Regions from separate parts of the Homo sapiens genome. Here region 2 is linked to region 1. Evidence: fine-mapped expression QTL. A gene starts in region 1. The other region holds a variant in brackets. All regions are shown on one strand. Distances are from middle to middle. Region 1 holds the start of FBL (fibrillarin). Region 2 has its middle 9.9 kb from the start of MIR6719.

Region 1 (5,374 bases):
CCCTCTATTTGTTCAGAAAGCACACAATCCATCAGATGGTGACCAGGGAAGTGCCGGTCACTCCCCTCAAGTATCGCATATGGAGAGATAGGCAATGTTGCTGCCACTCTCGACCCTAGTAAGGAAGGTTCATAGGGGTCTTGAAAACTTCATCTGTAAGACATGGAGACAATACAGTGCCAGGCCACGCGCCATAGCTCATGCCTGTAATCCCAGCACTTTGGGAGACCCAGGCAGGCGGACAGTTTGAGGCCAGGAGTTCAAGACCAGCCTGGCCAACATAGTGAAACCCTGTCTCTACTAAAAATACAAAAAATTAGCTGGGCGTGGTGGCGCATGCCTGTAATCCCAGCTACTCAAAAGGCTGAGGCACAAGCATCAATTGAACACAGGCGGAGGTTGCAGTGAGCTGAGATGGTGCCACTGCACTCCAGCCTGGGTGACAGAGAGAGATTCTGTATCAAAAAAATAAAAATAAAAAAAATGCAGTGCTCATCCTATAGGGTTGTAAAGATTAAATGACTTGTACCCACAGAGCACATCACATATATACTATCTGGCACCTACTTTGAACATCATCATTCAAACTCAGGGGTACGCGTCTCCTCTTCCCTCCTCATGTACCAAAAGTACCCATTCCTCAGAAAAAACACATGTTCACACAAACTTTTCCAGTTAGTTCTTTTTTCATCTTTCTATTAAAGATGAAAATGTAACTTTTAATAGCTACTCCTAATTTGATCTTTTAAAATGAAGTTTCCTTTTCAAAACTCTAGAACATAACTAAGAGTTGTTCACTTTTTAATGTTCTACTCCCCCTACAGTCCACTTTCCACACAGCAACTAATAAGTGCTGTTTTTGAAACAGCAACTCAGATCTCAATTTTCTTGCCCAAGCCCTCCAACAGTTTTCCAAAGCCAAGACCTTCATTTAGGGGAGATGCCACAGCTAGGCTTATGAAAGTCTCAACCCAGGCCTAACAGAAAGGAAGTACTGGCATGTGCTTGGGGCGGAGTGGGCATGAGTGTAAACTTTCAATCCCAGATACTCAAAACATCTCAATCCGTTTCAGGTCCTGGAGCTTTTGGGGGAAAATGTACCAAAAGTACCCAGTCCTCAGAAAAAACACATGTTCACACAAACTTTTCCAGTAAGTTCTTTTTTTGGGGGGAGGGGGGTCCATAAACCCCCTGATTTAAAATCTGCTCTCCTTCCACAGCCTTCTCCATCTCAAAAATGGCAATTCCATCCTTCCAGTTACACACCCCCAAACCCTTGGTTATCCTTGACTCCGATCACACACCCACATACAATCTGTTGGTTCTGTCTTCAAAAGCATGTAAAACTGTCAGCATGTCCACTGCTCCCATCCTGGTCCACCACACCATCTCCTAGATTACAGCAACAAGCTTCCCACCAATGTGCCTGCTTCCACTTTTGCCACCCTGAGGTCTTTCACACATCGAAGCAAAAAGAATCCCTTTTAAAAATGTCAGACTGCACCACGCCCCTGCTCAAAAATCTCCCAAAGGGTTCTTTTCTCACTCAGGCTAAAATCCTTACTAAAGAGCTAACACCTGACAACTTTTACAACTTCACATTCTACCACACATGGAGGAAGGTTGGAAGAACGGGTATCCTCCATTTATGAGGGAATCACAGACCAGAATGCCTGCAGGCAAGCCAGGATCTCAGCATACCTGGCCTACAATCCCCCACCCCACTTCATCAAGAGATCCCCAAACACGGAAGAGAAAGGGAACTTGGGAGAAGGGCACAGATCCACAAATCTCCTGCCAGGTGACCCCCATCTCTCCACACAAACACACACACAAAAGAAAAAGAAAGCCTGTACTAGGAAAACAGACCCTTTGGGCCATGGTGGAAATTCTCCAAACTCAATGAAGCAAGTTCTCACACAGATGAGTGCGGGTTGGGCAGGCCAGATGGAGGAAGTGCTCAGGCACCACCGAGAAGGATTCTAATGTTGTTCTCTTTGAGAAAGATAAAGGTAACAATTAGAGCTAATACTATTATATGTCAAGCACTGTGCTATTTTTTTTAACGTCGCTTAATCCTAACTGGCGCCATTTTATTGATGAGAAAACAGAGGCTCAGAGAGGTAAAGCCACTTGCCCAAGTTCACACAGCAGGCTAAGAAGCTGAGCAAGAGCTGACACACTGAACTGAGGCCCTTCTGCTGTCAAAGCCAGGACCCCCTCATCATTCCACCATGAAGGGAGTGGTTTCAGCAGAATCTAGTGGAAAATCTTAAGAATAAAACTACTTACCTCCTGTGACAACCACCCGCCCCACCACCCCAGACTAATGCCGAGCTTGTTAAGTCTCGTCCCGGAGGTGGAAATCTTAATCCCCAAATCTCCACTCCATCCCCGGGGATCCGCCCCACTGTAAGTGCAGAAGGCGGGAAAGTGAGCCGAAGAGCGCCGCACACGGCCAACCGGGGAGTCCTCATCCACTCCGGCCCACTCGGAAAAGCTGGGATGCGGGATAAGGGGATGGTGGTGGTGGCAGCGACAGGGAAGGCAAATGGGGGCTTCCCACACACAGCTCCAGGACCCAAGGTCAGGAACTCTCCATCTCCGACCCAAGCCTGATTCCCAAAACACGCCCAGCGATCCAAGACTCCAGATGCCTGAATCCAAACTCTAGCCCAAGACCCTTGAGTGCCGCCTCCTGCCCAATATCCAAAATCCCTATTAGACGGCCTCAATGAGACGAACCCCACGTCAACACCCCCAATGCCAGGCCCACGGCCTTCTTCGACTCACGACCGTGACCTCTGAAGCCAGTCACAAACCCCTAGACCTGCTGGAATCAGAATCCCCCTTCCCACAGGAGACTGGAACCCGTGCTCAGAACCCCTGCCCCCAGGCCAAGGCCCCACCCCTCCGATTCTGGCCTGGCACCCGGATTCCCGCCCGGCCTCCGTCCCTGACCCCGGACCCTCACCCCAGCCTGACCTGGCTTCATGGCGAGCCCTGGTTTGTGCGGCTCCGGAGTCCGCGGCGTTCACAACTCCACGAGTCCGGGGCTTTCGCACGTGGAAAAGAGCGCAGGCGCGCGGCGACGTGCGCTGCGTGACGCCACCCCGTAGTCCCGCCCCCGGGCCCCTTCCCCGCCCGGAGCTCGGCGCACGCGCAGTGAGCCTGGATTCTCGAGCCTGTCGACACGCAACCCGCTGCCCTCGCTCTCTGCCTTCCCAGCCTTTGCCTGTGCAGCGGTCGCCCTAAACTCGCTTCCGGTTTCCTCTTCCCCAATGCGAGCACCCCAATAATCAGGGCTCATAGCCTTCGCACGGGCTGTGCCCTCTTTTGTATTCCTAGCTAAATCCCTCTGGCCCCTGTACACCCAAAAAGGCTTCCCCAATACATTTCCAGCCCCAAGAACAGTGACCGACTCTGGGCTTCCATTCAAACATCCGAAAAACATTTACAGTGCACCTCGTGTGTACCAGGTGCTGTTCTAGGAGCTGGGAATACAGCGGTGTACGAGACATAAAAATCTCCACTCTCCTGGAGTTCATCTTTTTAATGGAGGAAATAGACACCAAACATGTTGAATGTTTGAAAGCGATAAGTGCTTTGGAGAAAATAACAGCAGGGAAAGGGGATAGAGATTTTGGAGGGCAAATGATTTTTGTTTTTTTGGCACGGTGGTCAAGGAATGCATCAGGAGACTTTTGAGCTAAAGGGCTGAAGGAAGTGAGGAGTGAGGCATGCACCTATCTAGGGGAAGAGAGTTCCAGGCAGGGAAAAGATCTGCAGATGCAGAGGCCCTGAGGAAGGAAAGATATGGGAAGTTGGAGAGACAATGAGGAGGGTGGGTGGGGCAAAGTGAGCAAGGTGGAGAGTAAGAGGAGATAAGGGCGGGTAGCTAACAAGGGCAGATTGTGCGGAGCTTTGTGGGACATAGTGAGGACTTAGGCAGTAAGATGGAACCATGGAAGGGTTCCAAGCAGAGAAGGAATGTGATCTGACACAGGTCCCTCTGGCTGCATGTGGGAAGCAGACTGCAGGAGTGAGGGTGAAAGCAGGAAAACCAAGGACTGGCTGCTGCCGTGAATCAGAAGAAAAGGATGGACAGATCAGAGTGGGGGCAGAGAGCGGCGTCAGGGGTCAACAGATTCTGCTTAAGTATTAAGAATTTTGGGCTTTGTAATTGTGTAATATCAGTATCCATCCCTATATTCATTCTGCAAAGCAAGACAACTGCTGTTATGAGAAGTTACCGAAAAACTCCAGAAGAACCTACCAGTCCAGAGCCTAGATGTTGACTCTGTTCCATTCACTGCTCTATCACTCTAGGCCTAGGACAGCCCTCTGGGTGCCCAGTAAATGTTTGTTGAATGAATGGATGGCCTCATACCGTTGTGAGTTCTCTGTGTACAGTGTTCCAGCTGTGGAATGCCACCAATTTGCACAGAAACATTCCTGAAAGATTGTTTAGATATTATGATGGAAAATCTGCTTAAACTTTTCAGAACCGGTCGGGGCAGTGGCTCACACCTGTAATCCAGGCACTTTGGGAGGCCGAGGCAGGAGGATCGCTTGAGCCCAGGAGCTTAAGGCCAGCCTGGGCTACAGAGTGAGACCTTATCTTTACAAAAAATAAAAAATTAGCTGGGTATGGTTGCTTGCACCTGTAGTCCCAGCTACTCAAGAGGCTGAGGCAGGAGGATCCTTTGAGCCCAGTAGGTCTAGGCTGAAATGAGCCATGACTGCACCACTACACTCCAGCCTGGGTCACAGAGCGACACCCCTGTCCCAAAACAAAAACAAAAACCAAACAAAAAAAACTTTTTAAAAACTATGAGATGAAATAGTTGAGTCTATTCTGGATTTCTAGATGTGCAATGATTCCAGTGGGTCCAATTCCGGATAATGTTACCTATTTCACATGGATTTTACTATTTGCCTTCTAATTAATATTTTTCTTCTAAAGGACAAAAGTACTCAGAGTGCAGTGCAGATTTAGGGGATTCCAGCCCTATTTCTTGGAATCCTGGCACCATCTCCTGCTTCTGAGATACTTTGCCTGCTAGCTTGCTCTGAAGACCTGAAATTGGCTCTATCGGTAAGTAATTAGTGGTGGAGGTGCCTGTTGGTCTTGTGCTGGGGACACAATGGTGGCTAAAACAGCCCCGGGTCCTGTCCTCCTGGAGCTGCCAGTCCAATAGGAGAGACAGACAGGTTCCCAAACAGTGTTGGCCCAGAGGGGTCAGGGCTGGGACAGGCAGAGGGGTAGGAGGGCAATGGGGGAAGCACCGGCAGAAATGGGACTGGGGAGCCCCAGGCAGGGGGCTCAGGGCCAGGATAGGGGAGGCCCAGGCAGAGAGGTGGGAGGGGGATG
Region 2 (5,374 bases), 26 kb before region 1:
GTAAAGAAATGAGGGAAACAGAAAGTCATCATTATAATATCACGGTAATAACTGCTACAGACCGGGTCCACTGATGAATGCTAAAATGTGTGGGTAAACTTGAAGGAGAAATGGGATATTTGTGCAGCCTCCAAGTATCTCCCTATTTCCCTCCAGGAATCAGGCTTAGCTCTCCTCTGAGTGTGGGCTGGATTTAGTGACTTGCTTCTAACAAATGAGTAAAGGGAAAATAGTGGTATTATCGTTGGGAAATCTGCAGACACCACTTTCATGAAGTGATCAGGTTAACCTCACCTCAGTGAGCATTCTTCCCAAAGCCTAAAATCCCAGTCTAACCACGAGCAAAATGTCAGACAACCTCAGACTGAGGGCCATTCTACAAAAACATCTCACCAGTACTCCTCAGAACTGTCAAGGTCATGAAAAACAAGGAAGGACTGAGAAATTGTCACAGATTGGAGGAGGCCAACGAGAAATGACCAACAAATGCAACATGGTATCCTGGATTGGATCCTGGAACAGAAAAAGGACATTAATGGAAAAACAGGAGAAATAGGATTCAAGTCTGGAGTTTAACAGAATATTAATCCATGTTAATTTCTCAGTTTTGACAAATATACAATAATTATGTAAGATGCTAACACTAGGTGGAAGTTGGGTGTAGGTATAGGGAAGTCCCTGTATCATCTTTGCAACTTGTCTGTAAATCTAAAATTATTAAATTTTAAAACGTTCACAAAACTTTAAGTCTCCTCTGCAATATGGCTCGAGGTGGTCCCCCGCGGAGTTCCAAAGCACGCTTTGTTTGACTCATCCTTCAGATCTCATCTTACATGCTCCCCACGCCAGGAAGTCCCACCTGACACCACAGACTGGGTCAGGAGCTGCCTCTGGCTCCCACAGTCCCCCTGTGGCTCCCCTATCCTGGCCCCAACCCCTCTGCCTCCCCATCCCAGCCCTGGTCACTGTCTGCCGTTGGGGTTGTCTTCCCCACTGGACTGTGAGCTTTGCGAGGGCAAGGTGGAGGCTGTCTCAGCCATTGCTGTGTCTCAGCCATTGCTGTGTCTCTCTTGAGTTGAGAGTAATGCGTGTCTCCCTGACTCCTCTGGGAATACCCATGAACAGGCAGAAGCTGCGCCTGAATCCTCCCAACTGACCCTTAACGCTTCACAGCCCAAGGCCTGCCAGATCCACCTTCCTGGTATCCCCTTTCCTGTTTGCTCAATCCAGGACACATCTGAGGCAATATAAATGGTCTGTCTCACCCATCAGCCAAAAGAGGGTCAAATCATCTCCAACCCCTGCCACACCTGCCCACCCACATGTCCGCCCTGTACACCAAGTGTCAGAAACACATGGTGACTGTGAATGTTTGGGGGGCCTGCCCAGTCCACAGCCCTTCTGAGCAGACAGTCATCACTATAGGAACCCTCCAGCTCCAGTGAGTTGAGCAGGGTTGGATACCCGACCCTGGAAATCCCATTCCTATCTGGGAAATTCGGAATGAAGACTGAGGGGCTGCGGGTAACTGAGCTGGAAGATCACATAGAGTGGGGGCAAGAGTCCACCCAGGACCAACCCAGCTGCCTGAGAACAGGAAGCAGCCAATGCAAAGAGAAGCAGAGACCACAGGGCCCAGTGGAAAGGAGGAATGTCACACCACTGTCTCACTTCTGCTTCTATTCTGTTCTCATGAAGCCCTTGTCAGGTTCTTTCCATCACTACCCACAACCAATCACAGTGAGTTCTGCCTTCAAAATGCACCCAGACTCCAATGACTACTCATTCTGCCCCTGCCCTGGTACAGGCCACTGTCATCTCACCTAGATTATTGCAGCAACCTCCTCACGGGCCTCCCTGCTCTCATTCTCAGCCCACACTTCCATCTATACACCCTCCCTTAGTGATCCCATCCTGGGCTTTAATACCATAAATATGCCAACTACTCCCAGCCCAGATCTCACCCTTCAATGCCAGTCTTGTATAAGCTCCTGTTTGGCCAGTGGGTCCAGTCAGAGGCTAAACACGCCCACACTCTCTCTCAGTCTTGTCCATACAGTTAATGGCACTCCCTCCTTCCTCTGTGCAGACTAAACGCCATAGTGTGGTCCTTGACTCTTCTTTCTTACCCTACATACCTGATTCTCCCTTCAAATTATATGCAAAATCTGACCACATCTCCCCACCGCCCCGTTAGCACCCTGGCCAAGCCACTATCATCTCAGCTGGACTGCACAGTGGCCT[C/T]CTCACTGGCATCCTGCTTCCACCCTAGTAGCCACATGGGAGCCAGAGGAACCCTCTTACCGTGGTAGATCACATCGCCTCAGCTCACCATGCTCTCCCTGCCACACATCTCATCAGCTTCAAATTCAAGTCCTTCCCATGGCCTCCCGGTCCCACCTGACCTTGCCTTGGTCTCCTTCCCTCCCACTGTGTCCAGTCAGGTCCAGTTCACTCCTTTCTGCTCCTCCAGCACACCAAGCATGCCTCGGGGCCTTTGAATTTGCTGGTTTTTTCTACCTGGAATGTCCTTCTTCCCAGAATATACATACAGCCAGCTGGTGTCCTCCCTTTCTGTGAGGTCCATTAACGTTTTTCTCAAAGAGGTCTTCTTTAACCCCTCTATCTAAAATAGCACCTCTTCCCACTCTCTAGTCTTCCAACCCTCAACTTCTACAGCTCTGTTCACTAATATTAGCATTCATCTTGCCCACTGGAATGCAGGCTCCAGGAGGACAGGGCTTTCGGGGGTCTTGTTTGCTACTATTAATAATACCAGCACCTAAAAATGCTTGGCATGTAGTAAATAGCCAGATCTGATGACTCAACAAATAAGAAAACCCTGGAATCAGTTAGGATATTGTTGATTCTAAGTAATAGAAAACTCAATTCAACAATATAGTTGGCTTAAACGATAGAGATATGTTGAATTCCCTAATGAGAAAGTCTAGAGGTAACTCACTCCAAGTGAGGCCTGATCCAGCACTTCAACAACATCACCAAAGACTCGATGTCTTTCCATCTCTCTACTAGTCCTTCCAAGAAAATGGCTAAAATCACATCACTAAGAAGTGGGTTGGCTGGACGCAGTGGCTCACGCCTGTAATCTCAGCACTTTGGGAGGCCAAGGTTGGTGGATCACTTGAGCCCAGGAGTTCGAGAGCACTCTAGGAAACATGGTGAAACCCCATCTCTACAAAAAATACAAAAATTAGCCAGGTGTGGTGGTGCATGCTTGTGGTCCCAAGTACTCAGGAGACTGAGGCAGGAGGATCACCTGAGCCCAAGAGGTCTAGGCTGCAGTGACTCCAGCCAGGGTGACAGAGTCAGGCCCTGTTTAAAAACAAAAAAAAAGAAGAAGAAGAAGAAGAAAAAGAAGTGGAAGTGGGTTACTAATGTGTTTATTCATCTGACCGCCACTTCTTCAACAATTGTGAAAATTGTAATGCTGATGAACATGATGCTGATAATAATAGCTATCACATATTCAGTGCTTTGTGCCAGGCGCTTTACTAGTACTTTATTAGCTTCTGTGTGCCTTCATTTCCTCGTTTGTAAAATGGGAACAGTAGTAGTACCACATACGGTGACTGAGGATTAAATGAGCTAATACATAAAATGGTAAGATCTTAAAAAAATATTAGCTTGTTTCAGTTAGCTATTGCTGTGTAACAAAGCATCCTAAGCCACAGGGGCATAAAATAGCAACCATTTCTTTGCTCATGATTCTGCAATTTGGACAAGGCTCAAAGGGTCAGGGGATTTGAGATGGTTCATTCCTACTCCACATGGTGTCAACTGGAATGGGAGTTAGGCCATCCCAAGATGGCATCACTTGCACGCCTGCACATCAGCTAAAAGTTGGAACAGCCGCGGGCTGGGGCAGATCTATAGAAAGGGCAGGGCTCCAAGAGTAGAAGCAGAATCTGCCAGGTCTCTTAAAGCCTAGGCCTCCATTTAGTACAGCATCATCTTCATTGTATTTTTTTTTTTTTTTTTTTGAGAAAGAGTCTCACTCTGTCACCCAGGCTGGAGTGCAGTGGTATGATCTTGGTTCACTGCAACCTCCACCTCCCGGGTTCAAGTGATTCTCCTGCCTCAGCCTCCAGAGTAGGTGGGACTACAGGAGTGCACCACACCTGGCTATTTTTTTTTTTTTTTTTGTATTTTTAGTAGAGATAGGGTTTCTCCATGTTGGTCAGGCTGGTCTCGAACTCCTTTCCTCAAGTGATTCACCTGCCTCAGCCTCCCAAAGTGCTGGGATTACAGGCATGAGCCACCGCACCCAGCCTGCTTTCATTGTATTCTATTGGTCAAAACAAATCTCAGGGCCAGCTCAGATATAAGGAGAAGGAAGGAGACTCCACCTCTTGATAGGAAAAACAGCAAAGAATGTGTGGCTGTCTTCAATCACAGCTATTTTAATTCCACAGTAACAGCCTTGTCACTGGTCTCCCTACTTTAATCCTTAATGCCTTATAGTCAATTCCCCACACAGAAGCCAGAGGAGTCTTTTAAAGTACACTTTAGTGTGAAGAATTTTAGAAGGAAACACACACACACACATACACACACACACAAACACCTGACCACGCTCCTGTCCCCAGCTTAAAATTCTACAACTTCCCACTACATGTGGGGTAAACACCCAAACTCCTTATGGCATACACAAGGTCTGACCTCTTGCTCTGCATCAGCCTCTAGGCTCCAACCATCCCAAACTCTTATCTCTTAAAGGAGTTAATGCCTACTCCTTCATCACCTCAAACCTCATTTCCTAGGATCCGGATTTGATTTCCTATCAAGTATTCTTATAACACTCTCTACCTTTCTTGGTAATTTCACACGTGTGATTATTTGATAGTCTAAATTACTGTCCCTATTACTGTAGGTTCTATAGGGGTAGGGGAATATTTTGTTCTCTTCTGTGTTCCCAATGCTGAGGAGAAAGAAGAGGCAAGGTGAAATACTTGTTGAATATCTTGAGCCCTCAGAAAACTTTAAGGCAGCTCCTTGGAGTTCTGTAGAAAGGGGATCGGCAGAGTCCCCGCCATGCTGGGATCCAGATATGTGCTCTTCAATAGTTTATTTGATAAGTAGTTACTGAGCCCTAACTGTGTGCCAAGCACTTTTCTATGTGTTGGAGATAACGGAGGAAGTAGACAAAAGCCCCTTCCCTGATGAAGTCAACAGTCTCCTAGAGGTAAGGGTCAGGGGAGACAGACCATAAACACAGATAAATTCTACAGAGTGTTAAACAGTAATATGATTAATGCTAAGGATAAAGTTAAAGAAGCAAAGATAGATGTGACTATAAGTCACAAATTTAGAAGGGTGGTGAGGGAAGATCTCAGGAAGGCAGTGACATCTCAGG

What was found.
Region 2: its variant is fine-mapped to the expression of FBL in sun-exposed skin (GTEx, PIP 0.96).

Annotation. Positions count from the first base shown.
Region 1 is chr19:39,843,306-39,848,679 of GRCh38, forward strand. FBL (fibrillarin) reads right to left here and starts at 3,074. Exons shown (of 9, transcript NM_001436.4): 1 at 2,986-3,074. The coding sequence starts at 2,995. RefSeq lists an enhancer at 1,879-2,619.
Region 2 is chr19:39,817,200-39,822,573 of GRCh38, forward strand. No RefSeq gene overlaps it. Among named protein-coding and RNA genes, the nearest start is that of MIR6719, 9.9 kb to the right of the region's middle. The variant C/T (reference allele first, on the strand shown) is at 2,245.